4 separate regions of the Homo sapiens genome follow, and all the other regions are linked to region 1. The links come from fine-mapping of genetic effects on plasma protein levels. A gene starts in region 1. Each other region holds a variant in brackets. All regions are shown on one strand. Distances are from middle to middle.

Region 1 (8,105 bases):
CACAGTCCCATCTTCTTGTAGTCTAAGCCAGGGTAGAGTCCCCGGAGTGGGGACAGGATGGGGAAGGAGCCATGAGGGAGCATCCCCAGGAAAACTAACTGGCCACGAAGAGCTGCTTTGGGCTTTGGAGTTTCCCTGCCCTGATCACTGCCTCTCCTTCCCTGCTGGCATCGCCTTTTTCAGAGCTGCAGTGTCCTCCCCCTGATGGCCCATCCCCAGCCCCGGGCAGGGCTCTGCTGTCCCTGGGAGTTGCTGCACCTGAACCACCCCCATGTGGGTGGATTCTGCAGAGGGCAGTGGCCACTCGCCACCCCAGCAGTGGGGCAGAGCTCCGAAGCCTCCAGCTCCCGCTCTGCCTTTGCTCAGTCTCCACAGGGGAGTTATCTGACATTCTGAGTCCCATAATCTTCCTCTGACAGAAGGCATGTTACAGGAAAGGGGTCCCGATCCAGACCCCAAGAGAGGGTTCTTGGATCTTGCACAAGAGAGAATTCAGGTTGAGTCTGCAGTGCAAAGGAAAAGCACGTTTATTAAGAAAGTACAGTGGTGAAAGGACAGCTACTCCATAGACAGAGTAGGACATTCCCAAAAGTCAGAGAAGGAAGGAATGCATTCAATGCGTTGTATATATGGGGACATGTGCTCTGCTACAAGGGTTTGTGATAAAGGATTAATTTTCTTAATTACTACATTATCCAAGAATTGATATTATTATTATTATTGAGATAGAGTCTCGCTCTGTTGCCCAGGCTGGAGGGCAGTGGTGGGCTCTTGGCTCACTGCAACCTCCACTTCCCAGTTTCAAGCAATTCTCCTGCCTCAGCCTCCTGAGTAACTGGGATTACAGGCATGTACCACCATGCCCAGCTAATCTTTGTATTTTTAGTAGAGACAGGGTTTCACCATGTTGACCAGGCTGGTCTCGAACTCCTGACCTCAAATGATCCACCCGCCTCGGCCTCCCAAAGTGCTGGGATTACAGGTGTGAGCCACCGTGCCCAGCCAACATTATTATTTTTAAAGCAAAATTAGGAATGCCTTTGCTCTCCAGATATCGGAGTATCTGGACCTTCCCAAGTCTGGGTCTGTGTAGTAAATATTATTAATTTGTTCCCTTAACTGCAAACATCTAGAGGCTAGAAATGCCTGACTTTCTGATAATGCAGCCCAGCAAATCTCGGCCTCATTTTCCTAGCTCTCACCCAAAATGGAGTCACTCTGGTTCAAACGCCTCTGACAGGTGCAGCCACCAAATTCCCAGTGCTGGTGACTAAGGAGATAATAAATCAGAGGGCATTTGCACCATGACAGTTCCTTGCCATAATCATCCCATGTCCCCACCCGCAGAGGTCTTGAAGGAGGAAGGGGTTTTGAAGATTGGGCTGGCCTCTTCTCTGACTGGAGGGCCCGGGGGCAGCCATTCCAGGAGAAGCCTCCCTTCAGCCAGCATCCCCAAGAGCCAGCTGCAAAGGGTGGAGCCCCCTGTAACTCGCCTCACAGCCTCCCTGGGGCCCATCTGGTCCAGGCTTAGCTTTTCTTAGGAATTTGGTCTTCCCTGGCTCTGGCCGCAGCTCCTAGGTTTGTAGTGGTGACCTGTGATCCACTGTCTTAATCATGGAGACTTTTGACCTGCTTGGCTGAACGCACTTGTAACTACCTTCTTCAGGAAGCAGCAGCCAGGAAAACATAATGGTGGTGAGGTCAAGGCCAGGGGTCAGGTCCATGTCGGTGGATGAGGGTGGGGTGCTGGTGGCAGGAGCACCCACCACTCAGGTTCCTGTCTTCGTTGAATGAGAGGGCCACCCTTGCAGGTAAGTACCAGCCCACTGACTCAGGCCACTCCCAAGAGGGCTTGGGAAGGAGAGGGGCTACCTACCCAGAGGTCTCGGTGTCCAGCGCCACATCCTACCTAGTCCATCCACCCTGACCAGAGGTTAGAGACCGAAAGTCAGTCGCCTGTCACCCAGCTACTGCCCCCCACACTGACTGACCTGCCACCCCTCCCCCTTATTTCAAGATGGCTGAAGAAGCCTCTCTAATGGACCTTGCTCACCCCACCTCCCCCTCTGAGGGACAGGGGATAATCCTGAAAAACAGCTCAGCACAACCCAAGTGTTTCCTGGGCAAAGTCTCAGTCGCTCCCGGCCAGGGGTCTGGGGCTCTGAAGGGGACCAAATATCCTCACCCGGCCTCTTGTCTCAATGGACAGAGATGCTCTGGGGGTCGCCATATGCAACCTGGTCCCTTCTCAGCTTGAGTCCTCCATAAGATGAATGGAAGGCAGGTCCCAGTCAGAAAGCCTTGGCACTAAAGGGGATAGCAGCTTGTGTGAGGGGTGAGCTGAGACACATTCCTGACACTGGCCCCAGGCTTGGGGGAGAGCCCCATAAACTTGGTATATGACACACCAGCCACGTGCCACACAGGCACCGCACTAATCACTTAAACCCATTATCTTATTCAAACGCTTAAAACCCCTGAAGTCAGAATGACAACACCTGTTTTGCAAATGGGACAGGAAGTGACTTACCCAAGACCACACAGCTACAAAGCACCAGAACTGCAAAGCATTTCTCTTTCTACTTTCTAGCTGCTTAGTAGGTTTCCAATGTCCAACCCTACAAATAAAAGTTTCCACATTCTGCTTTTTCTCTTTCTTCTCCCAGGGGCCCGGTGGAGAGGCTGCAAGGTGCCCCTCGACCCTCTAAGACAGCTCAGCCAGTCCCTGCTGCAAAGGGCACACGCTGGCTCCTCTCTGTGCAGAGGACACCTTCACCCCTCACTCCGCCGCTTTGAGGATGGAGCACCTAACTTGGGAGAGGAGGTTTCAGCCTGCGTGGACCCCAAGAACCATCCGAGGGGTGGTTGGGCTGAGAACTGGCAGAGGGGGTCTTCCGGTGATGGGGTCTGGGGTTGCAAAGAAGGTGCCTCCAGGATCGGATCCCTGTGCCCAGCCGCTTGAAGCGCCTTTAGCTTCTTATCAAATATTAACATGCCTTTCCTGCCACCTCCCACCTAGAGGAATAATTAAGAGCTCGGCTTCACCATTAATCTTTAAACGAAAATCACCCTGTCCGGAAAGACCGGCTCCGCAGAGGCCTTGGGGCTCCGGGTCCCCCACCCCCCGCCCCCGCCAGGCTCCCAATTCAGCGCTGGAGGTTAGGGAGGCCAGGGGAGCTTGCGACCCTCAGGGGCAAGGAACCCGTGTGGGAAGCGCGGCTTCCAGGACCCTGCCAGACCGCCCTTGCTCTGGCCGCGGGGCAGTCACCCAGCGCTGAGTCCCAGCGGGACGGACGGAAACCCACGGGCAGACGGAGGAGGCTGGGTGAGAAAAGAAGGCGTGCGTTGAGGCGGGTCCGAGAAGCATCCTTTTTTTTTTTTTTTTTTTTTTTTTTTTTTTTTTTTAAACGGAGCACCAGGCTGGAGTGCAGTGGCGTGATCTCACTGCAACCTCCACCTCCTGGGTTCAAGCGATTCTCGGGCCTCAGCCTCCCGAGTAGCTGGGATTACAGGCGTGTGCCACCACGTCCGGCTAATGTTTGTATTTTTGGTAGAGATGGGATTTCACCATGTTGGCCATGCTGGTCTCGAACTCCTGGGCTCAGGTGATCCACCCGCCTCTGCCTCCCAACGTGCTGGCATTTCAGGCTGGAGCACCCGCGCCCGGCCTGAGACGCATCCTTATCAGGGACTCCCAACTCGTCTCGCCGGGCCACGCGCACACACCCTCACCGCGCACACCCGTGCACACGCTCCCCCAGCCGGTGCTGACACGCGTGTGCACACACAAGCTCGCGCGCTGCCCAGTCCTCCCGCACCCTCGCGGCCCCCGGCGCACACGCAACCCGGGACCCCAGCGCCACCGACGCTCACCGGTCGCCCGCGGGGGGATCCTCTGCAGGGGCGGGAGCTGGGGGCACGGAGGGGACCGCCGAGGGGCACCTGGGGCCGGAGCCCGGGAGCTCACCTGCACTGGCCGATGGCCGCGCCGCGGAGAGGGCCAGGAGCGCCAGCAGCATCCGCATCTTGCGGGACAGCAAAGAGTCCTCTGAGCCGGGGGTCGCGCACCGAGGAGGCCGCCGCGGGTGCAGCGATCCTGCCGGCCTGGGTTTTATAGCGGAGCCGCGACGGGAGGGAGCCCCGACAGCTGGACGCGGGAGGCGGCTCCTCCCCCTGGCGGGGCCTGCCCTCCCCTCTCCACCTTCCCCTGTCCCTCATCTGAAATCCTCCGCTCTCCCCGGTCCCCCGCCCTGCCTGGCCACCTCTTGCCCTGTGCGCAAGGCCCCCTCACCCACTCCGCGTCCTCTCCACTCAGCAGCGGCGCCCTGCCCCTCCCCCATCCTACTCCTGGTCCCTGGTTTGGGAACAGGGACACGACACCACAAAGTGCTTGACCCACACAAAGATGAGTGCCCCATGATGACTTTGATCATTCTGGCGCCACCCCTGCGCAGTGGTCTTGAATGGGACCTTGGAATGGCCTTGGGGTGGGGGTGGGGGTGGGGGTGGAGATGGCCTCGAAGAGATGAGAGGCTGAGGGGCGTGTGATGCCGTTTGTTGAATCAGTGGCCGCAGAAAGGCTCTCCTATCTCTCTTTGGCAGTGGCCATTGATTCTCTGGGTCTCATCTCTTCTATTTCCTCCCAGGCTGCTCCAAACTTAATTTCTAAGCAGACCAAAGACCTTTCTTCGAATACAGAGCAAAGCTGTCCCTAAACTACTGCCCTTGCTGGTGTTTATGTGATGACCAGGGAGGGTTGATGGGGCAGAATTAAGAAATGGATTGTAAGAGGATTCGGTGAGGGAGAAGCTGATGGGGTCAAAGGGGAGGAGCTAGGTTCTTTGAGCCCCCCAGGTGGAGAGATGAGATGGGAAGAGAAGAGACTGGGGTCTGAATGGACCCCTGGTTCTCCCATCTGGCAAGACCTCCAGAGGAGTCCAGGGGAAGTTCCCTTAAGGGCGGCTCCAACATTTGGGGAAATGGGGTCCCCCCCATGCCCCCAAGCTGCCTCTTGTCTCCTCTCTTAGCTGTGCCCTCCTGCTACTGCAGGTCCTCTGTGTCCCACATGGGGTGGGGGCTTCTGTGGGAGTTTGGGAAGCTCAGGCTGGGGTGCGGGAGAGGGACGGGGAACCAGGCAGTGGACCTGGACCTCCTCCATCAATCCATCAACAGGAAGCCCCCTTTTTCTGGTTTAGCCACTCCCCATCCGCTGCCAACCTCTCAGTCCCTACCGACCTTCGAACCTGGGCTAGGGACTTCTGAAGGGGGATTGCCTCCCCCAGAAGGATTCAGGCAAAGATGCTTCCTCCTTGCTTAGGGTTGAGGCTGACTCCCCGCTCCTGGCCCAGGATCACACAGCCTCACAGAGCAGCTTTGATCCTACAGAGAGGCAGGAGGGAGGTGAGGGGGTGTCCATGCCAGGCTTAGGGCTCTATTGTCAACACCACTGTATAATGTAATCACCAGCCTGCGACCATGACAGCCACAGGAGGGATTCCACACCCAGAGCCTATTCTGGGGAGTGCATTTGTGTTCACAGGGCTATAAAAATGTCCCTTTCAGGACTGAGGAAGCCTGTTCCTGGGAATAAAAACCACCCCCAGGGAGTCCCTGTGACCTCTGGCCAGCCCCCTGATGAGCAGGGGAGAGGCTTGGGAAACTTTGGTGGGGTTAAGGGACTGTTGATCAATGATCCACTTTAAAGTTCATTGCATTCAGGCCCCCCAGGAGAGAGGGGGGCCCTGGGTGCATTTTGGGACCATAAAGATGGGTGAGGAGAACGAGTCCCTGGTAGGGCATCCCCTCTGAGGAATGCGGGAGGGGTAAAGCTATACACTCTCTTATGGGTGCATCTTAATTATGGGCACCACAGAGCCTGCACATTGGCGATGGGGTGGTGGACTGGTTCCTGCTCCATCTGCCATCTCTAACTTCAAGGTTACACAGGGTGAGTGGCCCTCTCTTCCTGTTCCTGGTCTTAACATTCTCAGCCTTATCTCCAGCCCTGACCCCAGTCCTGGCCTGCCATAAACCAGTCACCTGTCACTATTTAGACTACCTGGGGCCCTGCTTACCTGTAGGGGACAAGGCCTGATTTAGGGTCGTTAGAGCTGGAATGAGTGCTGACATGTCCCAGCGACTTACAGGGCCCATAAAGCTGCCAGCCCAGGCCACCTGAGTGGGAGAGCCCAGCCCAGCAGCCCCAGCCTCCTTCCTCTTACTCTGCAGAGGCCCCCAGTGTTCTGAGTTCAAGTCTTTGCTCTTCTTCTGACTCACGGATGACCTTGGGCAACTTTCCTGCACCCGGCTGATTGCAACTTCCTCATCTATAAACTGGAGATGGTAATCCCTGCCCGGCTGACCTCCACCAATAAACAGTTATTTGGAGTCTGCTGTGAACCAGGGCCTGCCCAGCCCAGACTCTCACAACCGGCCTCTCAGTGCCTGGGTGTAGCCACTGGCCCATGGCGGATGCAAAGATTAATCACACTCTTGTCCTCTGGGGATGTTTGCACGCATGGCCCTGTCAGGAACAGAAGGGAGGCCATGGGAAAGCTAAGGGGCTTTGAGACACATAACCCTGGAGTCACTTCTGGCTCCATCCACTTGCTCTGTGATGGCAGCTGAGCCTCAGTTTTCCTCATCTATGAAATGGAAATCATCCCCCAATCTCTCTCAAAGATTGCCCTGAGGCCTCAGTGAGCTAAAGTCTGAGGAGGCTGGGCCCACGGCTTGGCACATTGGCACATGTGGCCATGACCTCTAAGCAGAGTCCCCTTAGCTGGATTAAATCTGACCCTAGGCAGGTGTGGAGGCAGCATTGGGTGGGATGGAACATTGAGTTAGCACTGGAGAGGGGCCCTGGCACATCCAGGCTCTTCCTGGGCTCCCAAGGGCAAGGAGGAGAGCCCTGACTGTAAACCTGGGAACATGAGGTTCAGATGCAGCTCCCGCTGGAACTGTGAGAGCCATGGAGTGGAGGCACAAAGGGAGCTGAGACCCTGCACCCCTGGGTTCACAGCTCAGGGGAAGGTCAAATACATTGCCCTAAACAGAAACCTATCATACCTTATGCTCAGCGTCGCAGGAGGGCAGAGAGAATATCAGGCAGAGGGTCAGAATAGGAGTAGGAGCCACACTGCCCGGGGTCTACATCCCAGACCCGACACTCAGCTTTCACCCCCGTCAGGCTCAGTGTCCTGATCAGGAAAATCACCAGCCTTCGACCATGATTTTAAAAAAAAACCAAAATAACAAAAAACACAGCAGAAATAAAAACAGCAGCTGCCGGGCACAGTGGCTCATGCCTGTAATCTCAACACTTTGGGAGGCCGAGGTGGGCAGATCACTTGAGGTCAGGAGTTCGAGACCAGCCTGGCCAAGATGGAGAAACCCCCGTCTCACTAAAAACACAAAAATTAGCCAGGTGTGGTGGCGGGTGCCTGTAATCCCAGCTACATGGGAAGTGGAGGCAGGAGAATCACTTGAACCCAGGAGGCAGAGGTTGTAGTGAGCTGAGATTGTGTCACTGCACTCCAGCCTGGGCAATAGAGCAAGACTCTATCTCAAAAAGAAAAAAAAAAAAAGAAAAAAAGAAAACCAGCAATACCTTCACAAGAGCGTGGTTAAAATTCCACAAGGTAATGCTGGGTGAAGGGCCTGTCTGGACACTTACTGAGTGCTCAGTAAACCTCAGCTGTAATTCTTAGTTGTTAAGGCCACAGTGGCCTTATGCCCAGAACAGCACAGGAGCCCAGAGGAGCAGCCCCTAACCCAGCCTGTAGGAAAGAGACTGGGGAAGCCTCCCTCAAGAGATCAGACCCGCACTGAGTCTTCAAAGAAAAGTAGACTTTAACTTAAAAAGGGAAGGGAGATGCAGGTGAAGGAAACAGAATGAGAAAAGGCATGGAGGTGAGGCTGGAGAGGGGTTTGGGACCAGACAGGGCTTGTCTGTTAGGATTGGAAGGTTGGACTGATCTTTCCTTTGGTGCGGGATAGATATCAAGATCTTAATTTTATAGACTGGGGAACATTCTCAGAGAGGGTCACTCGACCCCAGAAGCAGGTAGGGATCCTCTGTTACTTCTATGAGTTACAGAAGAGGA
Region 2 (8,105 bases), 97 kb before region 1:
TCTCACTGTATTGCCCAGGCTGGTCTTGAACTCTCCTGAGTTCAAGAGATCCTTCCACTTCAGCCTCTTGAGTAGGTGGGATTACAGGTGTACACCAATGTGCCCAACTTTCATGTAGTTTTTTAAATATTCATACTCAGAAGACTCAGTCTTGATATTCTTGAGTGTTTTCTTGATTGTCTCTAGTTTTTAGCTACTAAAAGATTTTAAAATATATTAACGTAGGATTTTAAAATAATTGACATGTAGAAACCAGATATTGTAAGGACATACATAAAGGCTTTTATGTGGCTATAGTGACTTTTTTTCTTAGAATATTACAATCTAATTTATTATAGTAATATATTCTGAGGTAAATATCACTTAGCATAGGTAGAAATAATGCTTTATAGCCTATATTTATATTTATTGGCTTATTTTACAACTACTCATAGCATCCCTATTTCAAAAAATAAGGTTGATATAATCTTATATTTTCATAGAAAGTTATTCTTTGTAAAATACATGTAGTTACATTATCTCATCTGGTCCTTAGAATAACTGCATGAAATTAGTGTCTCTCATTTTGTAAAAGTGGAAACCAAGATTTATAGAAGTTGAGGACCTGAAATTACATGGGACTGGCAGAATCAAGTTTAGGACCTCTTTCATTAAAAGTACCAATAATTTGCCTTTTGTATTTTGTATTTTTTAATAAGTCTAGATTTAAAATTGTTGGTTCCAAATGGGTTCATTTCATCTGTGGGTTTTTTTTAAAATTTGTTTATTCATTTTCAGTTTTATTTTATTTTGCCTCTACTATTACTTATAAAAATTCATTTGACTGTGATAATTTTTAAAGGATGATTCAGGTTGGTTCATATGCAATGAGGTGAAACAAATATTTGTCTCTAACTTACAGTCAGTACGTTGTTAAAAAAAAAAAGTATCGTGATTTCTGGAATGGCCGAGTGAAGATCTCAGCCAACCCTTTCCCCAAAAGCACTTAAAAAACTGAACAAAATTGTCAAACAACCATTTCAGGACTCTGGAAACTGACCAAATATATACAAGAAATTGAGAAGCATTTATTCAAGAACTACTAATCCTTGGTGAGAACAATGGAAGTGTGTGGTAATTTAACCAGGAGCAGCTTTCATTTCCTCCCATCCAGCAAGTCTGCATGGGCTGTCAGTCTGATTCATGATTTGAAGGAGAGCAGGAATAAATGCCTGTCCAAGGATAATAAAATAAATACATACCATCATGGTGGTAAACAGTGAGGGAAAACTGACATCACCAGCTTGGGGATAAAATACTGGTTAGGGGAAGCAGCAGACTAACAACAGACCAGTCAAATTTTTAACAGGGAACAGGATCACCATAGTGAGCCTTAGCAAGCTTTCTCATGTCCCCAGTGATCTGTAGACTGCTTGTACAAGGCTATACACAAACTCAGGAGAAACCAAAGTGGGCTTTAGCACTTTATTCTTCCCTAGTTGAAGGTGAAGCCTTGCATGTGCAGAAAGTAAAAGCCAGGGTAGGCTTGTAACCTGCCCAAACTTTAAATGCATTCCCCAAACCATGTACAGATCCATCAGGAAAAGGGTGTGAATGTTACTGGCTAAACACAACCAGTAAACTGCTGAGAGCACAACCTCTCAGCAGTCATTGGCTGACCAGTAAGTTAGGCTCACCCCAAGAAGGCCAAGCTTAAAAATAAAAACAGATAATAAAAAAGAAAACACGAAGAAACTGAGCAGCTTCACACTGCAAGATACTGTACCGGAAGATAAACTCTACAGAATTGTTCCAGGAAGTCGTAAAACAAAACAAAACACACAGGGGTTCAGAATCCAGAGTTGCTAATATAAAGTATCAAATGTGTTCAGTTTTCAACAAGAAAAAATTATGAGACATGGAATAAAACAGGAAAATGTGACCCATATACGAGGAAAAAACAAAGAATAGTAGAAACTGTCTCAGAGGTGGCAGCAGATGTTCTCCTTAGCACACAAAGACTTCAATACAACTATTGTAAATGTTTTCAAAGAGCTAAACGAAGCTGTATTTAAAGAATTAGAGGAATGTATGATCTCACTGACTTGTCCAAATAGAAAATAGCAATAAATAAATAAAAATTTAAAACAGAATCAAATAGAAATTCTAGCAGATTTGAGTTGACAGAGAAATATTCAGCAAAACAGAATATGGATCAATAGAGATTATTTCATCAGAAAGAGAGAAAGAAGACCAAATAAATGAACAGAGTTTCACAGAAGTTGGAACATGATCAAGTCTACCAAAATATGCATAATGAAAGTCTCAGAAGGAAAGAAAGAAGCAGAAAAAAGTTTGACAAGATAATGTCTGAAAGTTCTAAAATTTCTCGAAAATTATTAATCTTAGAAGCTTAATGAACTCCAACTAGGTTAAACACAGAAAGAATCACACCTAGACATATCATTGTCAAAGTGTTGAAAACTAAAGACAAAGGAAGAAGTTGAAAGCCACAAGAGCAGAAAGACTCATCATGTAGAAGGGAACCACAATGTGATAAACAGCTGACTTTTTGAAACAATAGAGCTCAGTGTGCAGTGATATGAGAAAGTGATATAAGGAAAAAACCAAAAAAGCAAAAACTGTCAATCCAGAATTCTTTATCTAGCAGAACTGTAATTCAGAAATAAAGGTGAATTACTACCTGACTTCAAAATACACTACAAAGCTATAGTAACCAAAACAGCATGGCACTGACATAAGAACAGACAAATAGACCAATGGAACAGAACAGAGAACCCAGAAATAAATCCAGGCCAGGCGTGGTGGCTCACGCCTGTAATCCTAGTGCTTTGGGAGGCTGAGGTAGGTGGATCATGACGTCAGGAGGTTGAGACCATACTGGCTAACGCGGTGAAACCCCGTCTCTACTAAAAATACAAAACAATTATCCAGGTGTGATAGCACATGCCTGTAGTCCCAGCTACTCAGGAGGCTGAGGCAGGAGAATCGCTTGAACTGGGGAGGTGGAGGTTGCAATGAGCCAAGATCACGCCACTGCACTCCAGCCTGGGCAACAGAATGAGACTCTGTCTCAAAAACAAACAAAC[A/C]AAAAAAAAACCAAAACAAACAAACAAGCAAAACCCCCCACATTTACAACCAACTCTTTTTTGACAAAGATGCCAAGAGCATACATTAGAGAAAGGACAATCTCTTCAATAAATGGTGCTGGAAAAATTGGATATCCACGTGCAGAAGAATGAAACCAGTTCCCAATTTCTTACCATACACTAAAATCAAATCAAAATGGATTAAAGAGGCTGGGCGAGGTGGCTCATGCCTGTAATCCCAGCACTTTGGGAGGCCGAGACGGCTGGATCACCTGAGGCCAGGAGTTCGAGACCAGCCTGACCAACATGGTGAAACCCTATCTCTACTCAAAGTACAAAAACTAGTTGGGTATGGTGGCAGGCGCCTGTAATCCCAGCTACTCAGGAGGCTGAGGTGGGAAAACTGCTTGAAACCGGGAGGTGGAGGTTGCAGTGAGCCGAGATTGCCCCACTGCACTCCAGCCTGGGCTACACAGGGAGACTCCGCCTCAAAAAAAAAAGAAAAGAAAATGGATTCAAAGACTTAAATCTAAGACCTAAACTACTAGACGAAATTGGGGAAATGCTGTAGGACATTTGTCTGAGTGGTATGACACTGTATAATACCTCAAAAGCACAGTCAGCCAAAGCAAAAATGGACAAACAGGATTTCATCAAGTTAAAAAGCTTTACAGCAAAGGAAACAGTCAACAGAGTGAAGAGACAACCAACAGAATAGGAGAAAATATTTGCAAACTATCCATTCATCAAGGTTTTAATAACCAGAATGTATAAAGGCCTCAACTCAATAACAAAAAACCAAATAACCCAATTTAAAAATGGGCAAGTGATCTGAATAGACATTGCTCAAAAAAAGACATACAAATGGCCAGCAGATATATGAAAAAATGCTCAACATCACTAATCATAATCGAAATATCAAAACCACAATGAAATATTATCTCCCAGTTAAAATGGCTATTATAAAAAAGACAAAGAATAACTGATTCTGATGAGGATGTGAAGAAAGGGAAGTGCTAGTACACTATTGATGGGAATGTAAATTAGTACAGTCAATATGGAAAACAGTATGGAGGTGCCCCAATAAACTAAAAATAGATCCACCATATTATCCAGCGATCCCACTGCTGGGTATATATTCAGAAGAAAGGAAATCAGTAAAGCAAAGAGCTATCTACACCCCTGTGTTTATTGCAGCACTACTTACAATAGCCAAGATACAGAATCAACTTAAGTGTCCATCAGTTGATGAATGGATAAAGAAAAAAAAAAAATATATATATATATACACACACACATACACAATAAAATGTTATTCAGCCATAAAATGAATGCAATCCTGTCATCTGCAGCAACATGGATAAAACCGGAGGTCATTACGTTAAGTGAGATAGGCCAAGCATAGAAAGACAAATATCACGTGTTCTCACTTTTAAGTGGGAGCTAAAAAAGTTGATCTCGTGGAATTAGAGAGTATTATGATGGTTATCAGAGGCTGGCAAGGGCAGGAGGGATAATATTGAAGAGAGGTTAGTTAATGACTGTAAAAATACAGTTGGATAGAATGAATGACTTCTAGTGTTTAATAGCACAGTAGGGTAACTATAGTTAAAAATAATTTATTGTATATTTCAAATTAGCTAGAAGATTCGGAATATTCCCAACCCAAAAAAATGATAAATATTTGAGGTGATGAATATCCTAATTACCATATTTGATCATTACGCATTGTATGCATATATCAGAATATCACATGTACCCCAAAAACATATACTATTATTATATATAATTTTTTAATAGAAATATTTTTAAAGCTTTTTAAAAAAAAACACATTAAAAAAAAAAGAAGGTGAACTAAAGACATTCCTATATGAACACTGAAAATTTGTTACCAGGAAATCTGTCTTTAAATACTGAAGGAAGTTCTTCAAGCTGAAAATAAGTGACACCAGACGGTTATTAACATCCACATGAACAAATAAAGAGGCTCTCTTCCTTGGCGCTGCCTACGGAGGTGGCAGCCATCTCCTACTTGGCATCATAGCTGCCCTCAGACCCCTTGTGAAGTCCAAGATCATCAAAAAGAGAACCAAGAATTTCATCCAGCACCAGTTACACTGATATGTCAAAACTAAGTGTAACTGACAGAAACCCAGAGGTATTGACAACAGAGTTTGTAGAAGGTTCAGCAACAAAAAACAAACCACATGCTGCCCAGTGGCTTCCAGAATTTCCTGGTCCGCAATGTCAAGGAGCTGGAAGTGCTGCTGACGTGCAACAAGTGTGCTGAGATTGCCCACAGTGTTTCCTCCAAGAACTGCAAAGACATTGTGGAAAGAGCAGCCCAGCTGGCCATCAGAGTCACCAATCCCAATGCCAGCCTGTGAAGAAAATGAATAGACAGCTCATATGCATGTTTTATGTTTAAATAAAACCATAAAAACTGCCAAAAAAAAAAATAAAGAGCACCAATAGTAGAAATTACATAGGTAATAATAAAAGACAGTATAAATATACCATTCTGTTTATTTTATTTTTTACTGGTTTAAAAGACATTTTTACATGACAATAATTATAAAACCATGTTGTTCCCATTACATATAACGATCTTATATGAGTGACAACAATAGCACAAAGGTGAGAGTAGAAGGGGAGCTATATTTGAGCAAAGTTTCTATGTTTTAGTTTCTACACTTTTTTAGTTTCTATACTTTACTGGAATAAATTAGTATCAATCAAACATAGTAGACTATGTTGGCTGGGTGCCATGGCTCACGCCTGTAATCCCAGCTCTTTGGGAGGCCAAGGCAGGCGGATCTCTTGAAGCCAGGAGTTCGATACCAGCCTGGCCAACATGGCAAAACCTCGTCTCTACTCAAAGTACAAAAATTAGCCTGGCGTGGTGGTGCGTGCCTGTAACCCTATCTATTCATGAGGCTGAGGTGGGAGAATCACTTGAACCCAGGAGGCAGAGGTTGCAGTAAGCTGAGATGGAACGCCTGCTCTCCAGCCTGGGCGACAGAGCAAGATGACATCTCAAAAACATAAAGTAAAATAAACAATAAAGTAGACTATGTTAAGATCCATATTGTAAACCCTACAACAATCTCTAAGAAAATGATCCCCCAAAATAGTTTTATTTAAAAAGGCATTAAAATGTTACCTATTTAAATTCCTAGAAAATACCTATTTACCACAAAAGAAAGAACTAGAGGAATAGAGGAACAAATAGACTTGATACATAGAAAACAAAAAACTAAATAGCAGACATAAATCCACATCTGTTTTTACCTTAAATATAAACAGATTGAACAGATAATCAAAAGCCAAAGATTTAGACTGACTTGTTTTTTGAAAAATCTAGCTACTTGGCTGGGCACGGTGGCTCATGCCTGTAATCCTAGCACTTTGGGAGGCCGAGGTGGGTGGATTGCAAGGTGAGGAGATTGAGACCATCCTGGTTAACACGGTCTCTACTAAAAAAATTAGCTGGGCGTGGTGGTGGGCGCCTATAGTCCCAGCTACTCGGGAGGCTGAGACAGGAGAATGGCGTGAACCCGGGAGGCGGGGCTTGCAGTGAGCCGAGATCGCGTCACTGCACTTCAGCCTGGGTGACAGAGCTAGACTCCATCTCAAAAAAAAAAAAAAAAAAAAAAAACACAATCCAGCTACTTGAGATTCAAAGGCACAAATAGGTTGAAAGTAAAAGAATAAAAGATAAAACCATACAAATATAGCCATACGTGAACTAAAATCACTTTACTGTTAAGAAAAGAAAATGGCTTTTAGGTTACAAAAGTCAAGTTACTGGAGCCAGAGAGACATTTTATTATGATAAATGATGATATATGCACCCACCAACAGAACCCTTCAGCCAACAGCAACAGAATACATATTCAAATGTAGACAGAGTATTGTTCTAGGATAGACCATATACTAGGCCAGCAGTTAGTCAGCAGACTATGGCATATTGACCAACTTTGTCCCACTGCCTGATTCTGTACAATCTGCAAGCTAAAAATGTTTTTACCGTTTTAAGTGGCTTAGAAAAAACCAAAAGGGGATAAATATTTTGTGACACCTTACAATTATATAAAATTCACATTTCAGTGTACATAAATAACATTTTACTAGAGCACAGTCATGCTCATTCACAACTTTGGGGAAGGGAAATTCCTCACTCTAAAAAATATCTTGAAAAACATACAGCTGAGATCATACTTAATGGTAGAACACTGAAGGCTTTTCCCATAAGATCAGGAAAGGATACTTGCTTTTGCCGCACTTATCAACATTGTATTAGAGCTTCAAGCTAGTTAAATTAGGCAAGAAAAGGAAATAAAAGGCATCAAGATTGTAAAGAAAAATAAAACTGTCTGTAATTGCAGATAACATGATCCTATGTGTAGAAAACCCTGAAGAATTCACAGAAAAACTGTTAGAATTAATAAAATGAGTTCAGCAACATGACAGGATACAAGATCAATGATTAAGCAATCAATTGAATTGTCATGTACTAGATAGAATAATTTGAAAGTACAATTAAAAAGAAGACAACAATTCCATTCACTATATTGTCAAAAGAAATCAAACCCTTGGAAACAAATTCAACAAAAGAAGTGCAAGACTTGTGCACTGAAAGATACAAAGCATTGCTGACAGAAATTTAAGAAAATGTACGTAAATGGATTTGAAAACTTATTGTTGTCAATATGGCAATTTTCTCAAATTGTTCTATAGATTCAAAACACACCTAATCAAATCCCAGCTTTTTTCTATAAATTGACAAGCTATTCCTAAATTGTATAGGGAAATGCAGAGAACTCAGACTAGCCTAAACAACTTCAAAAAAATGACAAAAAACAGAAGACTTAGACTTCCTGATTTCACAATTTACCTAAGGATACATTAATCAAGTACTGGAATAAGGAGAATCATAGAGATCAGTAAAATGGAATTGATATTTTAAAAGGAAACCCTTGGCCAGGCGTGGTGGCTCATGCCTGTAATCCCAGC
Region 3 (8,105 bases), 21 kb before region 1:
AAAAAAATCAGCTGGGTGTGGTGGCCCATGCCTGTAGTCATCCCAGCTACTCGGGAGGCTGAGGTGGGAGGATCGCTCGAACCCAGAAGGTTGAGGTTGCCTTGATTGTGCCACTGCATTCCAGCCTGGGTGACAGTGAGACCTTGTCTCAAAAAGCCTCGGAAGGACTGGCCTAGGGAGATGGGCAAGCATTTTGTTTCTAGTTTCTGAATGGCCCTATGCGTTGAGAGAGGTCTTCGGCCTCCCAGCCTCCCTGGCTGAAGGTGGTGAGTCTGCATGGAGTCTCTCCACCACTTGGTGGCATTGCTCACAGTGACTTCTTACTTCTAAACACCATTGAATTGGAGCAAGTAGATGATTTGCCACATTTTTCCCAGCTAGTTTGGAGGCTGAGTACAGAATTTTACTGGGACACACCAGAATGTGTAAGTTGGGGAGTGGCGATCCCAGTTTCTCTTGATAATGTACCAACGGCTTCCTTAGTATTGAAATCACAAAGACAGAAATGCACACACCTCTATGATCAGAGATCCATACAGGAGAGAGCAACAAAAAGAGGCCTTTTAAGTTTGCCAGACTTCCTGACCAGTGGGAAGCAAGAGAGTAGATAAGTGTGCAGCAGTCACAAACCCAGGCCTATAAGAACCTGGTTGGGAATAGAATGTAAGAGAATGGGGAGCGATGGGGACTCTAGTGTGTTCTAGGCACATGCCCATCTAAAGGCTCCATGTGACTGTTGTCCTGCAGGAATGTGGGCCCCAGTGTTCACCAAACCTTTTGTTTTGTTTTGTTTTTCCCATGAAGAGAAGCCAGAAACCCAGATATTAATACAAAGTATCCAGTTTAGAAGTGTTGGTAAATTTTTTTAACTTTGAACATTGTGCTGCCCAAAGAAGGTATCTGCAAGCCAGGTACAAACCAGCAGTTCATGCCCTCTGGTGAGCAGAAAGGTCATAGACTTTGAGCCCATTATGTCGGAGGTCACATTCTAGTTCTGCTGTTGCAACAGCTGTAAACGAAAGTTTTCAGATTTCTAACGCCCAGTGAAAATACCACTTCATTTCCAAAGGTTATTAAAAGGAATAGATCATGTATGTAAGTAGGCACAGAGCTTGCCACCTATTAGGTACTCAAAAGCATTCTTCCCTCACTTAAGGAAACAATACAGGCATAATATAACAATAATGTTATGTTCAAGTTCATTATCAGGAGGCATACACCCAAACAATAGGGGAGTGAGCACCTACCACGTACAGAGCTCTCTGCTAGTTTCTCTGGGGGCAACAGTTCCCAACCTGGCAATTCATCGGCATCATCGGAATCAGCCAGCAGCTTGTTGGATATGCTGAGTCCAGAGTCCTGCCCATATTACACCTAATGTTCTGTGCCTATTACACCCAGATTTATGAGATCCTCCTCTCCCATGCAGTCCAAGAATCTGCATTCTAATAAGTTCCTCAGAGGAAGCTCTTTCACAGCCAGTTTGCACTGGTCTGTGGGTTGGTCATTTATGGAAACCACTGCTCCAGGGAATGAATCATTATTTCCAGTCTCATTAGGGAAAGATGATATGCATATGCACACATGTAAGGAGTGACAGTAATTAGCCAAAAGCTCTGTAGACATAATTGCCTCTGATGAAGTGCTGACTGATGACATCAGACACTAGGCTATTGACAGTGTACCCCAGGGAAATGCAAAAGGGAAGCGAACTGCCTCATAAAGTGAGATTAGGATTACTGGGTCAGAAATGTGGAGAGGGTGATTCAGATGGACAAAGGAGCAGAGGCAGGATTCAAGTGATGCGTTTCAGAGGCAGTGCAGCCTGTTTGTGCTGAGTGGAAGGTGCATGAGGAACATAGTAGACTGTAACAGGAAGGCAGGAGCTGTGAAGGCCTTTGAAGGTCAGGCCAGTTGTAATAAAAGTATTTCACATTGTCAGGTATCTTGGGATAGTTGCCAAACATTTTTCTATGGTTTGTATAAATACATATCCATTTTATTTATGTATTTATTTATTTTAGTTTTTTTGTTTGTTTGTTTGTTTGTTTTTGAGACGGAGTTTCGCTCTTGTTGCCCAGGCTGGAGTGCAATGGAGCGATCCCAGCTCACTACAACCTCCGCCTCTCAGGTTCAAGCAATTCTCCTGCCTCAGCCTCCTGAGTAGCTGGGATTACAGGCATGAGCCACCACACCCAGCTAATTTTGTATTTTTAGTAGAGATGGGGTTTCTCCATGTTGGTCAGGCTCGTCTTGAACTCCCAGCCTCAGGTGATCCACCCACCTCGGCCTCCCAAAGTGCTGGGATTACAGGCGTGAGCCACTGTGCCCGGCCTATTTTAGTTTTTTTTTGAGACGGAGTTTCACTCTTGTCGCCCAGGCTGGAGTGAAGTGGCACTATCTCGGCTCACTGAAACCTCCACCTCCCGGATTCAAGTGATTCTCCTGCCTCAGCCTGCCAAGTAGTTGGGATTGCAGCCGCACGCCACCACACCTGGCTAATTTTTGTATTTTCAGTAGAGACGGGTTTTCACCATGTTGGCCAGGCTGGTCTCGAATTCCTGACCTCAGGTGATCCACCCGCCTCAGCCTCCCAAAGTGCTGGGAATACAGGTGTGAGCCACCACACGGCACATATGTATCTATTTTAGACCATTTTATTATAAACATAAGTTCTGTTTGCTGTAATTTCTCTCTTTTTCATATTCACAATCCACTTTGGCTGGAATTTCTCTTGATAACAAACTTTAGACCTTACCAACAAGCCCAAGAGGAACTCACAGATGGGTGCTAGGCTTGAAATGCCCCAAGAAGACTGAAGGAAGTGGAGGAGGAAGAAAAAAGGAGGCAGAAGGGGGAAAACCTAGAAGAGCTCTGGACAGGGAGGAGGCATGCCAGAGAGAGGAGCCCAGTCACAGCTGAGTGCAGCCCAGGAAGGAAAAATGTGCCTGGTTGGAGGAGTTGTCCAAGGACCTTGGGGATAAGGGGACGGGGCTTCTCTGCTGATCTGATGGTTTTTTCAGTACCACCCTTCAGTTATCTGTAGCAGGATCCTCTGCTGCTGATGGCCAAACCTCAGTGCCCACTGGGATTACAAACTGGGGAGGAAGAGGGGGACTTCCACATTAGGGATCAGCAGGGAGCCTCCAGAATGGAGTAGGAGATACCTACGGCCATCATCAGAGGCTGCCGCAGCCCCAGGTTCAGAGCAGTCATCTTAGCTGATGCCATGGAAAGCAGTAGACCAGAAGTCCAGTCCGCAGTGTTTGCTCAGCACTTGGCAGAATTGTATGACCTTGGGGGTCACTTGCCTTGTCCGCGCCTCGGTTCCCCCTGTGAATATTGAGCGAGTTGCATTAGGTCAGTTGTCTTCAGCTTTTATTTTGAAACAACATTGAGACCCGACCCTTTCTTCCAGCCATTCCAGCCACATTTACCTGAAGGACCCATAGCTAAAGCAGATGAGGTTGGAGTTACTCCGGTTGAAGTGACAGTGGGGGGTGTAGTGCTGCCTGGGCAACCGCTGTGGATTGGATGTCTGCTAAAGCACCTGTCACCTCTAAGCATTCAGAAAGCCAAGCACACAGTGCTCCAGTAGGGTCTGAGGAGCTCCCAGAGAATTGTCTCCAGCAAGAGGAGTTGACAGTGCTCCCAGGAGAACACTCTCATTTGGTCTGCTAGAAATCATGGCCACAGGGTGGGCCTTTTCAAAGGCCATTTTGCTACTCAGTATACTGGGTAGCCAGCTAGAGTGAAGAAGCCACAGGGAGTGCCCGGAGCAGTCAGCCTGCTGCCTGGCCTCTGTTCCCTGGACATCCATAGGGAGCAGCCCCAGGGCCTGTGGCCTTTCATTGTTGTGCCAGCTGGAGAAAGTTACTGCTGCCAATCCTTGTTTGCAGAGCTCTCTGCAGCACAGAGCTGCAAATAAACATCCTCTCACTTGGGGAGGGATGGGGGAAAGGAGAGGGCTAAATCATCCAAAACACGTTCATTGAGTATCTACCACTTAGCTTAAAGGATAGTCCTGAGCTTGGAACCAGAAGAAACGCTGGAGATGGGCTTAGACATTTACTGGACTTCTATCTGCCAAACCCCATGCTATGCATGTTTCACTCGTGATTCGTAAATGCTCACCACAGCTCTATGAGGGATGCATGATCACCCTTTTTTCTAGATCAGGAAGCTGAGGCTCAATCAGGTTAAGTCACTTGCCTGTGGTGTCACACAGATGGAACATTTCTGAGCAGGATTCAAACCCAGGTTCATCCAGCTGCTTCTTTACCACCCTACCTCCCCCTGAACTGGAGTCTGTGATCCACCACTTAGCAACTCCTGGCACAACGGTAGTCACCCTGAGCCTCAGTGGGCTCATCTTTGACAAGGGATCAGGGTACCATGACCATAGCTACCTGAGAGGCTTGTAATAAGCCCTGAATAAGAAAGTGAGTGTGGAACCCTTTACAACCAAGGACACTTGTGCAAATGCAGTGTGTTGTTACGTAAGGAGAGGAAGTGGGTGTCCCCAAAGCAGCTCCTCCTCCTCTTCCTGGAAGATGATGTAAATAAAGAGTCATGCAGGCCTCTTGATGGAGAGTGATGTCTTAGGTTTGTTCTATTCGCTTCTGATGGCCCAGGGACCTTAGCAGCTGGATAGAAAGAAGAATTGAGGGGGATTAGATGGGGAGATAGGACCAGGGAGAGAGAAAGGATTCTGGATTGAGTCAAGCAAAGACTGTAGTTCCAAACTGGACTTTGGAGTATCTGATAGTATCTTATCAGAGATTTAACATGGGTGTGATCATTTCAGAGGTGGGATGGGAAGGACAGGAGTCCAATATGCTATTGTTGTAAAGGCGGCCACCAGCCACAGCAGCCATGAGAATCTCGTGCTCCCCACTGGCCCCCTGCCAGACCGGGCTACCTGACTATGCTTCATCCACTGAGGACAATGCCTTCTCCCTTAAACTGGGGCCTTTTCCTTCCTGGCCTTTCCTGGGAAAGGAGAGAACAATTGAGTCTGATCATTTATCCTCAGCTGTTTA[T/A]GCCCCAGTAGCGTGGGCTTTAAACCAAATACCACATGTCCATCTGGACACCATGGCAGGCTCATCACGTGGCCGACACACTCCCTAGCTGCCTGCCCCGCTCCTGCATTCATTCAACCCTGACTCTGCAGCGTTCCAGAGCAGCCCATTGTTTTTTCCCCTGGGATTAAGAGCCCAACTCTGGTTTTCTCATCTCTCCTCTGGATGGTAGTGGAAATGTTAGGCCTCAATCCAAAACTGATATGTATTCAGAAAAAAAGAAAGAGAAAGAGAAACCAGTCAGGCCTAATTTGAACTGGGGAAATAGCCAGTGTAAATTTGGAGGAAAATTCAAACTCCATAGCTGACTTGAAAATTGTCAGCATTGGCCGGGGGCAGTGGCTCACGCCTGTAATCCCAGCACTGTGGGAGGCTGAGGCAGGTGGATCACGAGGTCAGGAGATTGAGACCATCCTGGCTAACATGGTGAAACCCCATCTCTACTAAAAATACAAAAAAATCAGCTGAGCATGGTGGCGCATGCCCGTAGTCCCAGATACTTGGGAGGCTGAGGCAGGAGAATTACTTGAACCCAGGAGGCAGAGGTTGCAGTGAGCCGAGATTGAGCCACTGCACTCCAGCCTGGTGACAGAGCAAGACTCCATCTTAAAAAAAATAAAAAAGTCAGCCTCCAGGGCCTGTACCCACCCAGATGGTACCCCCTTGGGAGGGGGCAGCATCAGCACCATGCCTGCAGAGGCTTAGGTGTAATTGTGTTTACGTTGATAGTTTATGCCTGTCTGGAGCATAGGCCAGCTCCGGCCCCACTCCCTGAAGCATCACCAAATTCCAAGCAGTAGTATCTCCATGAATCTGCGAATCTGCTGTTGCTGCTGCTGCTGCTGCTGCTGCTTTTTTTTTTTTTGAGACAGAGGGAGTCTCTCTCTGTTGCCCAGGCTGGAGTGCAGTGGCATGATCTCAACTCACTGCAACCTCCGCCTCCCAGGCTCAAGAGATTCTCCTGCCTCAGCCTCCCAAGTAGCTGGAATTACAGGCATGCACCACCATGCCCGGCTAATTTTTATATTTTTAGTAGAGATGGGGTTTCACCATGTTGGCCAGGCTGGCCCCAAACTCCTGACTTCAGGTGATCTGCCCACCTTGGCCTCCCAAACTGCTGGGATTACAGGCGCGAGTCACCGTGCCTGGTTGTGAATCTGCTTCCACACTGGCTGTGTTTTCCTGGTTATAGCAGCCTCAGGCTCAGTGAAAGGTCACTCGCTGTAATGACTCAGGTTTCATTGGTTCTCCTTTATCCCCCTGCAAAGACCCACTCTCCCTCAAAGTACTGATGGCAGCCTCCAGAGGGTATCTCAAGTGTGCTCTTCAACTAGTCCTTTCAGCTGCCACGTGGTGTCCTCTGAGAGGGACCACCCGATCTTCTGGGCACCCCTCACCCAACGTGACCACTGCCTCTAGGCATTGCCTCCCAGGCAGGACACCAGGGGCCAGAGTTGCTCACTGCTCCCTTCACACTCCACGAAGGCTTTCCCAAAGCAGAGCTGTTCGTATTTCCACAAAATCACCTTCCCCACCTCCCCACCGAAAAAAAAAAAAGAAATCACCCTTCCCCACCCCCTCCCAAAAAAATCACCCTTCCCCACCTGCCCCCCCAAAAAAAGAAATCACCCTTCCCCACCTGCCCCCCCAAAAAAAGAAATCACCCTTCCCCACCTGCCCCCCACAAAAAAAGAAATCACCCTTCCCCACCTGCCCCCCCCAAAAAAAGAAATCACCCTTCCCCACCTGCCCCCCCCAAAAAAAGAAATCACCCTTCTTCACCTCCCCCCCAAAAAATAAAAAGAAATCACCCTTCCCCACTTCCTCCCACCAAAAAAAGAAATCACCCTTCCCCACCTCCTCCTCCCCCCCGAAAAAAAGAAATCACCCTTCCCCACGCCCCCCCAAAAAATAAAAAGAAATTACCCTTCCCTTTTCCACATGCGGCTTCCATTCTCCTTATGCCCCTGGTGTGAGTCCCAGAGGCTGAGTGGTTGCCACACTGAACTCAGAGTCCCTCCTCCCCTACATCTCTACATCTCTACATCTCTACATCTCTGAAGCTTCACTTGGACCCAGCTTGTCATACCCAACCCTATTCCCTTAAGAGAGGTGTCTCGCAGGAGGCCACTGAGGCAGTAGACCCAGGCAAGTCTGTCCTGTCATGTTGTAAGCAGCTCCTGATGTGGCTTGACCTCAGGGGCTAAACGAGGATACACAGCTTCATCTAGAGTAGAATGAACCCCGATTCAATAGCCTCATGGAGACTGGGGACAGACCAGGCAGCAGAATGGAGGTGCAAAGCCACCTAGGGCTCAAGGACTGGGAAGACACATGGAGCTAGGGAATAGCAGAATCTGAGAATCAAGCACCTTGTACACCCAGATCCCACATGTGGAAACCGCTGTTCAAGCTGTAATGATACCAGGTTGACTGTGTCAGCCCCTGAAGGAAAGCTGGCATAAATAGAGCCTGGAAAACCAGGCTTATCTTTGCCCAATGGGCAAGGTAAATATTTAGTCCCAGCCCTGGAATGGTGCCTGGTAGTTCCATTCTTTGCTATCATTTTTCCTTTTATTCACTCGTGCTGCAAACATTTGCCACCTGCCCTCCCTCTCTGTGGCCAGCCTTGGCCTGGGCACTTCGATGCTCTGATGACTAAGACGTGATTCCCCATTCTTTTCCTCAGGGACTCTTGCTGGGGGAGCAGACAAGGAGCAGAGATCAGGTCAGGCCTCACAGGCTGGGTCTTGGCTAGCACGTAGACTTCACAAGAGGAAGCAAGACTGCGGGGAGTGGTGGGGGAGAGCGCTCCAGGGCTAGGGTCAGCACACATCCCAGCGTCCTTGACTGGCCTGGCGATTTCTGCACCCATGCTTCCCTGTAAGCGTCCATGTAGAAACACAGAACAAGAAACACTTGGAGGCCAGCAGCACTCAGTATAAGGGAAGCAGCAAGGACTGCTGGGTTTGCAGATCTGGGTTCAATTCCCCATTTTGTCATTCATTCGCTGGCAAGGGACAA
Region 4 (8,105 bases), 79 kb before region 1:
ATAGTAATATCTATTTAAGTAGGGATGTGAGAATTAAATGAGTTAATACATGTGAAGCACTTAGCCCAGTGCCTGGCAGATAGAAACTCTATATAAGGTTAAAGGTAATAATGGTGGTAGTAGTAGCAGTAGTTATATGAGGATTTAAATTTCTTCTTTCATGCCAGGCATGGTGGCTCACGCCTATTATCCCAGCACTTTGGGATGCCAAAGCAGGCAGATCACTTGAGGCTGGGAGTTCAGCACCAACCTGCCCAACCTGGAGAAAACCCGTCTCTACTAAAAATACAAAAATTAGCCGGGTATGGTGGTGTATGCCTGTAATCCCAGCTACTCAGGAGGCTGAGACACAAGAATAGCTCGAACCTAGGAGGCAGAGGTTGTAGAGAGCCAAGATGATGCCACTGCACTCCAGCCTGGGCAACAGAATGAGACTGTATTTAAAAAAAAAAAAAAAAAAATCAAATTTCTCTTTCCAGTCCATGTGGCCACTTTGACAAACGCCTTGTTTAAAAAAAAAAAAAAAAAAAATTTGGGCCAGGTGCAATGGCTCACACCTGCAATCCCAGCTCTTTGGGAGGCTGAGGCAGGCAGATCACTTGAGACCAGGAGTTCCAGACCAGCCTGGCCAACATGGTGAAACCCCGACTCTACTAAAAATATAAAAATTAGCCTGGCGTGGTGGCGTGTGCCTGCAGTTCCAGCTACTTGGGAGGCTGAGGCAGGAGAATCGCTTAAACCCAAGAAGCAGAGGTTGCAGTGAGCCGAGATCATGCCACTGCACACCATCCTGGATGACAGAGTGAGACTCCATCTCAAAAAAAAAAAAAAAAAAAAAAGAAAAAGAAAATTAGTGTTGACATGTCAGATAATTTGATCTTAGAGCTTCATCTGCCTACCTAAGAGAGTACTTAGCTTTAATTTTTTCTCTTCATAAAATGACATATTTACTTACGAATATTACTAATTGTGAGGGTAGTATGTTTCAAATACTGGCAAGACTAAATGGAAAGATCAGAGACCAAGGGATCAGGAAAAATGAGCCATCCTTTCTTAGAAGTGGCTAACCCCAGATTTGCTGATTCACTGGAGCATGAATAATTTGATTGTGTCTCTGCTCATGGAATCTTACCAGTCTTTCCCCGCTTTAATGTGTCAAGCTTTATTCTTCTATGTGTAATCTCCTAAAAAAATGTAAATGGGGAAGAATGGTGAAATCTTTTCTATCATTATTACATTACATAATGTGTATCTTCCTTTTTGAGAACTATGAAGGAGCAGCTATTACTATTCACATGCAGATTTTCCTATTTAGTTATCACGTAACTTTAGAGCTAGAAGATACTTTAAATCACCTTTCGTGCCTCTCTCCCATGGGCTTTGGGGGGTCCCTGTTCTCCTTAGCCAAGGCTGGAGGCCAAGAGCAGCCCTCGAGGATCGTCGTCAGGACTGCCACGAGTGGGGCAGCCTTGTTTTCCTGCCTCAGACATGTGTAGTTGAGTGGGAAATAAAAGGAATGAAACACCTCTCTTCTCTGAATTTACAAATGAAGCCTCTGAGGTCCTTAGGTTTTATAATTGCCCAAAGCTGTATCAGACAATTATTTTATTACTTTATCTAGCACTCTAGAGCTCAGTGTCCTGAGTCCTGCCTTAGTACCTAATCTGTTGCTCCATGCTGCCCTCTATTTTTCCAAAGCTAGCATTTCAGTCACTAGTGAAATATGAAATTGACATAACTGTTAATTGATTCTTGTAACATACCTATGTACAGGGCATAAAAAGTAGTAGTATCATCAATAGAGAAAAAGGTGAATCTTGACCCATATTTTAGAACACATAAACTATTTATACAACTCACAGGGAATCCTAAAATCTCAAAATAAAATTCTCTTATATTAAAATAAGTACCTAGTCCTTTTGTGAATTGTTGACTCAGAAAATGAGGACATTTCTCTCTACAGGTGAAACTTTACCTATTTAGAAATCTATCTTCTGAAAACCAGGGTTCTAGGATAATTTTGAATAGTTCCAGACCCCTGAAGTCAATAAAAACAAAACATGATCCTTTGATGTTTTAGAAAAACAAAAATTTCCGCAAGCAGCCAGAAATGAACAGTCAAAAAAAGCTAGTGACTCTAAGATTCTGCAATATATAACTGTGATTGGTTTGTTCATCTTATAGAAGGAAAGTGGTAATAAGATTAATCGGATGAAAAGGTAGCTATTTCACTGAAAGCCAAGAAGGGTAGAAGGAACAAGAAAAATAAGCGTGTAGGAAGGGGAAGAAGGAACCTGAGTTGTGCTGACAGTTTCAGGCAGTGGAGAACAGTGAGAGCATCAGGTTCCTGTAATAGAAAAGAAAGCCGAAGACAATGAGAAGACAGACCAGTCTAGTTTGTTTGGAGCATTGGAAGAGAAGCAAAGAAAAGCCCATATTCTCCAAGTCTAAAGGTTATTACTCACTGTACCATGTTAAAAGCATGTGGTAGAACCGCAGTTGCTAGAGGCAAATGTTGCAATCTCTGAGAAGTTATTAGAATCATCCTGTTCACAAATTATTATAAAATTTAGCCTAGCAAATTTAATGCCTGGTAATATTTTTATTATCCTGTTTTCTTGCCAGTGATATATATAGATTTAACCTATGGACTGAGCTCTTCAGAATGAGAAGCATTATTACAGGAATGGTTTCATTTACATTTTCTTTAGAAACATAGGCACCATGTAAGACTTTCAAACATGTTAAAACATTTAAGATACAATTCCAAATATTACTCCTTGAAATTCTCTTACATGCCCATCTTAGAGGAAAACTTGAAGAAAATTGTTTGCTCAAATAGACCCAATCTTCCTCAAAATATATTACTACAAATTTTTTAGAAAGTAATTTGTGGTCGGGCGCAGTGACTCACGCCTGTAACCCCAGCACTTTGGGAGGCCAAGGCAGGTGGATCACCTGAGGTCAGGGGTTCAAGACCAGCCTGGCCAACGTGGCGAAACCCTGTCTCCACCAGAAATACAAAAATTAGCCAGGCGCAGTGGTGCGTGCCTGTAATCCCAGCTACTCCGGAGGCTGAGGCAGGAGAATTGCTTGAACCCAGGAGGCAGAGGTTGCAGTGACCCAACATTGCACCACTGCACTCCAGCCTGGGCAACAAAGCGAGACTCTGTCTCAAAAAAAGAAGGAAAAAAAAAGTAATTTGTAATGCATCAACTTTATATAAATGGAATATAGAAGTGAGTATAAATTTATAAACGGATTACCTTGCCAAAAATGTGATGGTTATTGAAACATCATTTAAGATCACTTATAGCAAAACTAAAGTGATTTTTCTGGAGGAAAACAAAGTGACTTGGAAGACTTTAATTTTTCTCAAAGGTGGCGCTGTTACTCTTTCAAAATGGTTTTGCTGTCTGTCTTGCTCCATCTTTATGGGCAGGAAGCAAATGACCTGAAAACTAAATAAATCTAAATCTTCTTCTAAAACACAAGTTCCAGAGCAGGTAGCAGATTTAATAACAAGTCAATTTCTAAGCTCTTAACATCTGGAGCACATTATAAAAACAAATGCATGAGACTATAATCCTCACTAGGGCAATAGTTATTAATTCTGGCTGCATATGTAGTGAGATCACATAGAGAACTTTAAAAATGAAAAAATGCCTTTGGCCGGGTGACTCATGCCTGTAATCCTAGTACTTTGGGAGGCCAAGGCAGGAGGATTGTTTGGATCCTCCAGGAGTTTGAGACCAGTCTGGGTAACATATTGAGACCCCATCTCTATGAAAACTTTAAAAATTAGTTGGGCATGGTGATGCATGCCTGTGGTCCTAGCTGAGGTGGAAGGATCACTTGAGCTCAGGAGTTCAAGGGTATAGTGAGCTATAGG[C/T]GACTGAGCAAGACCCTGTATTAAAAAAAGAGCCTTTGCTATACTCCAGACTAAAAAAATCAAAAAGCATAAGTGAAAAAAAAAAGTTGAATTGATTTAAATAATAAGGCATTTATGTTTATGGAAAATTTTCTTTTGAAACCTAATTTAACCAGGTGAGGTGGCTCACACCTGTAATCCCACCACTTTGGGTGACTGAGGCAGGAGGATTACCTGAGGCTAGAGTTTGAGACCAGCCTGGGCAATACAGTAAGACTCCATTTCTACCAAAAAAAAAAACAAAAACAAAAAAAACAAAGAGTCTCGCTCTGTTGCTCTGGCTGGAGTGCAGTGGCATGATCTCAACTCACTTCAACCTCCACCCCCTGGGTTGAGGCCATCCTCCCACCTCAGCCTCTCAAGTTACTGGGGACTAAAGGTGCACACCACCATGCCCCACTATTTTTTTTTAATATTTTTTTGTAAAGACGGGATCTATCCACGTTGCTCGGGCTGGTCTCCAACTCTCCTGAGCTCAAGTGATCCAGCCACCTTGGCTCCCAAAGTGCAGGGATTACAGACATGAGCCACCATCCCTGGCCAAAACTTGTTTTAATTAAAAAAAAAAAAAAAAAGAAAAAGAAAAAAGAAACCTAATTTAAATGTCATGTATTTTGTGTTGGTATGAATTCCATATTAGAAAAGCTGTGAGAAGCTTGATATTATCTTTAAGAAAATTAACACTTAGGACTAATTTATACTTCTTTTTTGACATAGATCATTTTGGTTCTACTGTCTTGTCTACAGGATTTTGGTTTCTAGGCCAGGCACAGTGGGTCACGCCTGTAATCCCAGCACACTGGGAGGCCAAGGCAGGTGGATCACTTGTGTTCAGGAGTTTGAGGCCAGCATGGTGAAACCCTGTCTCTATTAAAAATACATAAATTAGCTGTGTGTGGTGGCAGGTGCCTGTAGTTCCAGCTACTCAGGAGGCTGAGGCAGGAGAATCATTTGAAGCTAGAGGCGGAGGTTGCTGTGAGCCGAGACTGCACCACTGACCTCCAGCCTGGGCGACAGAGCTTGACTCTGTCTCAAAAAAAAAAAAAGAATTTTGACTACTTTGGTGAACCATCTAAATTTTAAAAATTGATGGTCCAAAATTCATATGTAATATAGATTCCTACTTCTTAATCATTTTTTTAAACTATGGTCACCATTTTTCTCATGTAATGCCATACAGTTAACTTACATAAATAATTATGCCATTTTTACTTAAAATTTAAAAAAATTTTTTGGCTACTAAAGTGAAGCAGTGGTAACAGACAAGGAACAAAGAAATTTATAACTGTTTGTGATTAATTAGTTATTTAATCATATTTTCAAAGGAAACTTTATATCACTACTTTAAGTAGAAAACTTATGTCCACTGGGCACAGTGGCTCACGCCTTTAATCCTAGCCCTTTGGGAGGCCCAGGCAGGAGTATTGCTTGAGGCCGGGAGTTCAAGACTGACCTAGCCAACATAGCGAGACCCTGTCTCAAAAAAAAAAAAAAGAAAAGAAAAACTGAATGGGCATGGTGGCTCACGCCTGTAATTCCAGCACTTTGGGAGGCCCAGGCGGGCAGATAACCTGAGGTCAGGAATTCAAGACCAGCCTGGCCAGTATGGTGAAACCCTATCTCTATGAAAACTACAAAAATTATCTGGGCTTGGTGGCATGCACCTGTAATTCCAGTTACTCGGGAGGCTGAGGCAGGAGAATCTCCTGAACCTGGGAGGTGGAGGTTGCAGTGACCCGAGATCACGCCACTGCACTCTAGCCTGGGTGACAGAGTAAGACTCCGTCTCAAAAAAAAAAAAAAAAGAAAAAAAGAAAAGAAAACTAGTGTCGCTTGCCAGAAATAGAAGGCAATAATATTATTAAATTCCAGCTAATAGTGTTGCCTTTTGAAGACTCTGCTATTTAGGATTGTTCTCTCTTTGTTAAAAAGAGAAATAGAGAAAATATGAAATGTTAGATTAGCATATTAGCACTATATAAACAATACAATGTTTGGTGAAAGAAAAAAATATGATTTTTTTTTTTTTTTTTTTTTTTGAGACAGAGTCTCACTCTGTTGCCTAGGCTGGAGTACAGTGGCGCAATCTCAGCTTACTGCAACCTCCCGGGTTCAAGTGATTCTCTTGCCTCAGCCTCCCGAGTAGCTGGGATTACAGGAGCCCTCCACCACCCCCAGCTAATTTTTGTATTTTTAGTAGAGATGGGATTTCACCATTTTGGCCTCCTGACCTCAAGTGATCCATCTGCCTCGGTCTCCCAAAGTGCTGGGATTAAAGGTGTGTTCAGTTATTGTAGAAGGTCACATAGGTATAAGTCATAGCATTGCCCTTCACTCTATGTACATACACCACTCATCTTTTACATATATACATATTTTTCAGTCATAAGAACTAAAACACAGTTATTGCTAAATGATGGAATCTGAGTACATGTGATATTTTCTTCATGTTTTCTATATTTTCTACATTGACCATGTAATCTTTAATAATAAAAAAATTATATACATTCATGTACTATGGGAAATAAGGAAGAAAAGAAAAAAATTTAAGCTTTATTTACTTTTAATGTTAAAAAAATGGCTGCCAACAGAATAGAGTGTAAATTACTTTATGTGGCACAAAATCCTTCACAGTCTGTTTTGTCTACCTTGCCAATTTTATCTATATACATACTTTTCCTCCTGAAAGAGATTAAAATATAGCTATGTATTAGAATGTTTTTAAATGTCTGTGGCCAACCACAGGAGACTTAAAAAAATAGATAATTGTGAGATTTGTTTCTGAAGACTACATAGTTGTCAGATTATAAACTTTGCTTCTTATTCTCTGATTTCCTGATTTTAGGATGCCAACCCTGTGGTAATTGAGCCATCATCTGTTTTGAATGGAGGAAAATACTCATTTGGAACTGCAGCCCATCCTATGGAGCAGGTCGAAGATAGAATTGGAAGCAGCCTCAGTTACGTGAATACTACAGAAGAGAAATTTTCAGACAACATTTCTACTGCATCTGAAGCCTCAGAAACTGCTGGCAGCGGTAAATATGACCTATTCCCCTGAGGTTTATTGGTTTATTCCCCCTGGATAGGTCTTTCTTTTCTTTTCTTTTTTTTTTTTTTTTTTGAGACTGAGTTTCACATTTTGCCCAGGCTGGAGCGCAGTGGCGCGATCTCTGCTCACTGCAACCTCCACCTTCTGGGTTCAAGCGATTGTCCTGCCTCAGCCTCCTGAGTAGCTGCGATTACAGGCACCCGCCACCACGCCTGGCTAATTTTTGTATTTTTTTAGTAGAGATGGGGTTTCACTATGTTGGCCAGGCTGGTCTTGAACTCCCAACCTCGTGATCTGCCTGCCTCGGCCTCCCAAAGTGCTGGGATTACAGGCGTGAGCCACCATGCCTGGCCTCCCCATGGATAGTTATTAAGGCAGTCTAATTTGACAGAGGCTGTAGTGAATATGGTAATAGGAGATCAGGCTTCCATTAACAGAAATAAGTTTTGAATGAAATGGTCAATTGTAAAATTCTTGAATATATTAGTATTTTTACAAAGAAAACCTCTTTTCCATATTATACTTCATTAAATCTCTCAATATGGAAATATTTTCACTATTTTCTTTTGAGACAGGATCTCGCTCTGTCACCCAGGCTGGAGTACAGTGGCATAATCACGGCTTACTGCAGCCTCTGCCTCCTGGCCCCAAGCAATTCTCCCACCTCAGCCTCCTAAGAAGCTGGGACTACAGGCACGCGCCACCATGCCCAGCCATTTTTTGTGTGTTTTTATTTTAGGGATAGGGTTTTGCCATGTTGCCCAGGCTGGTCTCAAACTCCCAGGCTCAAGCAGTCCTCTGGCCTCAGCCTCTCAAAGTGCTGGGATTACAGGCATGAGCCATCACATGCGGCTATTTTCACTATTTTCATCAATCAAGCCCCATCTTTCCCTATTGCTATTAAATTATTTAGTCAGTAAATTTAAATTTTCAAAGATAGTCATCTCCAGGACTCTCTCTAGCCATAAACATAATTAAATTAAATGCACCCCACATCAGATTCTATGTATATTTCAGGCCAAAATATGGAGATTATTTTGTTAAAATACTGAGAAAGAATTCAGATGCCTCCCATAATTCCCTTTAGGCCTTGGTACTTACCTAAAACTTCATGTTTCCACA

Direction of the effects. Alleles are on the strand shown, and positions count from the first base shown. The strength of an association depends on the size of the effect and on how common the allele is.
With allele A in place of C in region 2, the plasma level of the protein whose gene starts at base 4,087 in region 1 is lower (weak association).
With allele A in place of T in region 3, the plasma level of the protein whose gene starts at base 4,087 in region 1 is lower (moderate association).
In carriers of allele C in region 4, the plasma level of the protein whose gene starts at base 4,087 in region 1 tends to be higher than with T alone (moderate association).

Evidence for each region. PIP is the chance, under the fine-mapping model, that this variant and not a neighbour inherited with it causes the effect. Protein levels are from antibody-based Olink assays in UK Biobank. Linkage for the fine-mapping came from a reference panel and not from the study's own genotypes, which makes the PIPs less certain.
Region 2: its variant is fine-mapped to the plasma level of the CA4 protein (UK Biobank, PIP above 0.99).
Region 3: its variant is fine-mapped to the plasma level of the CA4 protein (UK Biobank, PIP above 0.99).
Region 4: its variant is fine-mapped to the plasma level of the CA4 protein (UK Biobank, PIP above 0.99).

The regions. Positions count from the first base shown.
Region 1 is chr17:60,145,955-60,154,059 of GRCh38, reverse strand. CA4 (carbonic anhydrase 4) reads right to left here and starts at 4,087. Exons shown (of 8, transcript NM_000717.5): 1 at 3,968-4,087. The coding sequence starts at 4,025.
Region 2 is chr17:60,242,672-60,250,776 of GRCh38, reverse strand. All of the region lies in intron 11 of USP32 (ubiquitin specific peptidase 32), which reads left to right. It also overlaps the pseudogene RPL32P32. Among named protein-coding and RNA genes, the nearest start is that of CA4, 97 kb to the right of the region's middle. The variant A/C (reference allele first, on the strand shown) is at 3,090.
Region 3 is chr17:60,167,092-60,175,196 of GRCh38, reverse strand. It overlaps a transcript of CA4 not described here and the pseudogene FAM106DP. Among named protein-coding and RNA genes, the nearest start is that of CA4, 21 kb to the right of the region's middle. The variant T/A (reference allele first, on the strand shown) is at 5,043.
Region 4 is chr17:60,224,903-60,233,007 of GRCh38, reverse strand. USP32 (ubiquitin specific peptidase 32) reads left to right here. Exons shown (of 34, transcript NM_032582.4): 13 at 6,777-6,969. It also overlaps SCARNA20. Among named protein-coding and RNA genes, the nearest start is that of CA4, 79 kb to the right of the region's middle. The variant C/T (reference allele first, on the strand shown) is at 3,893.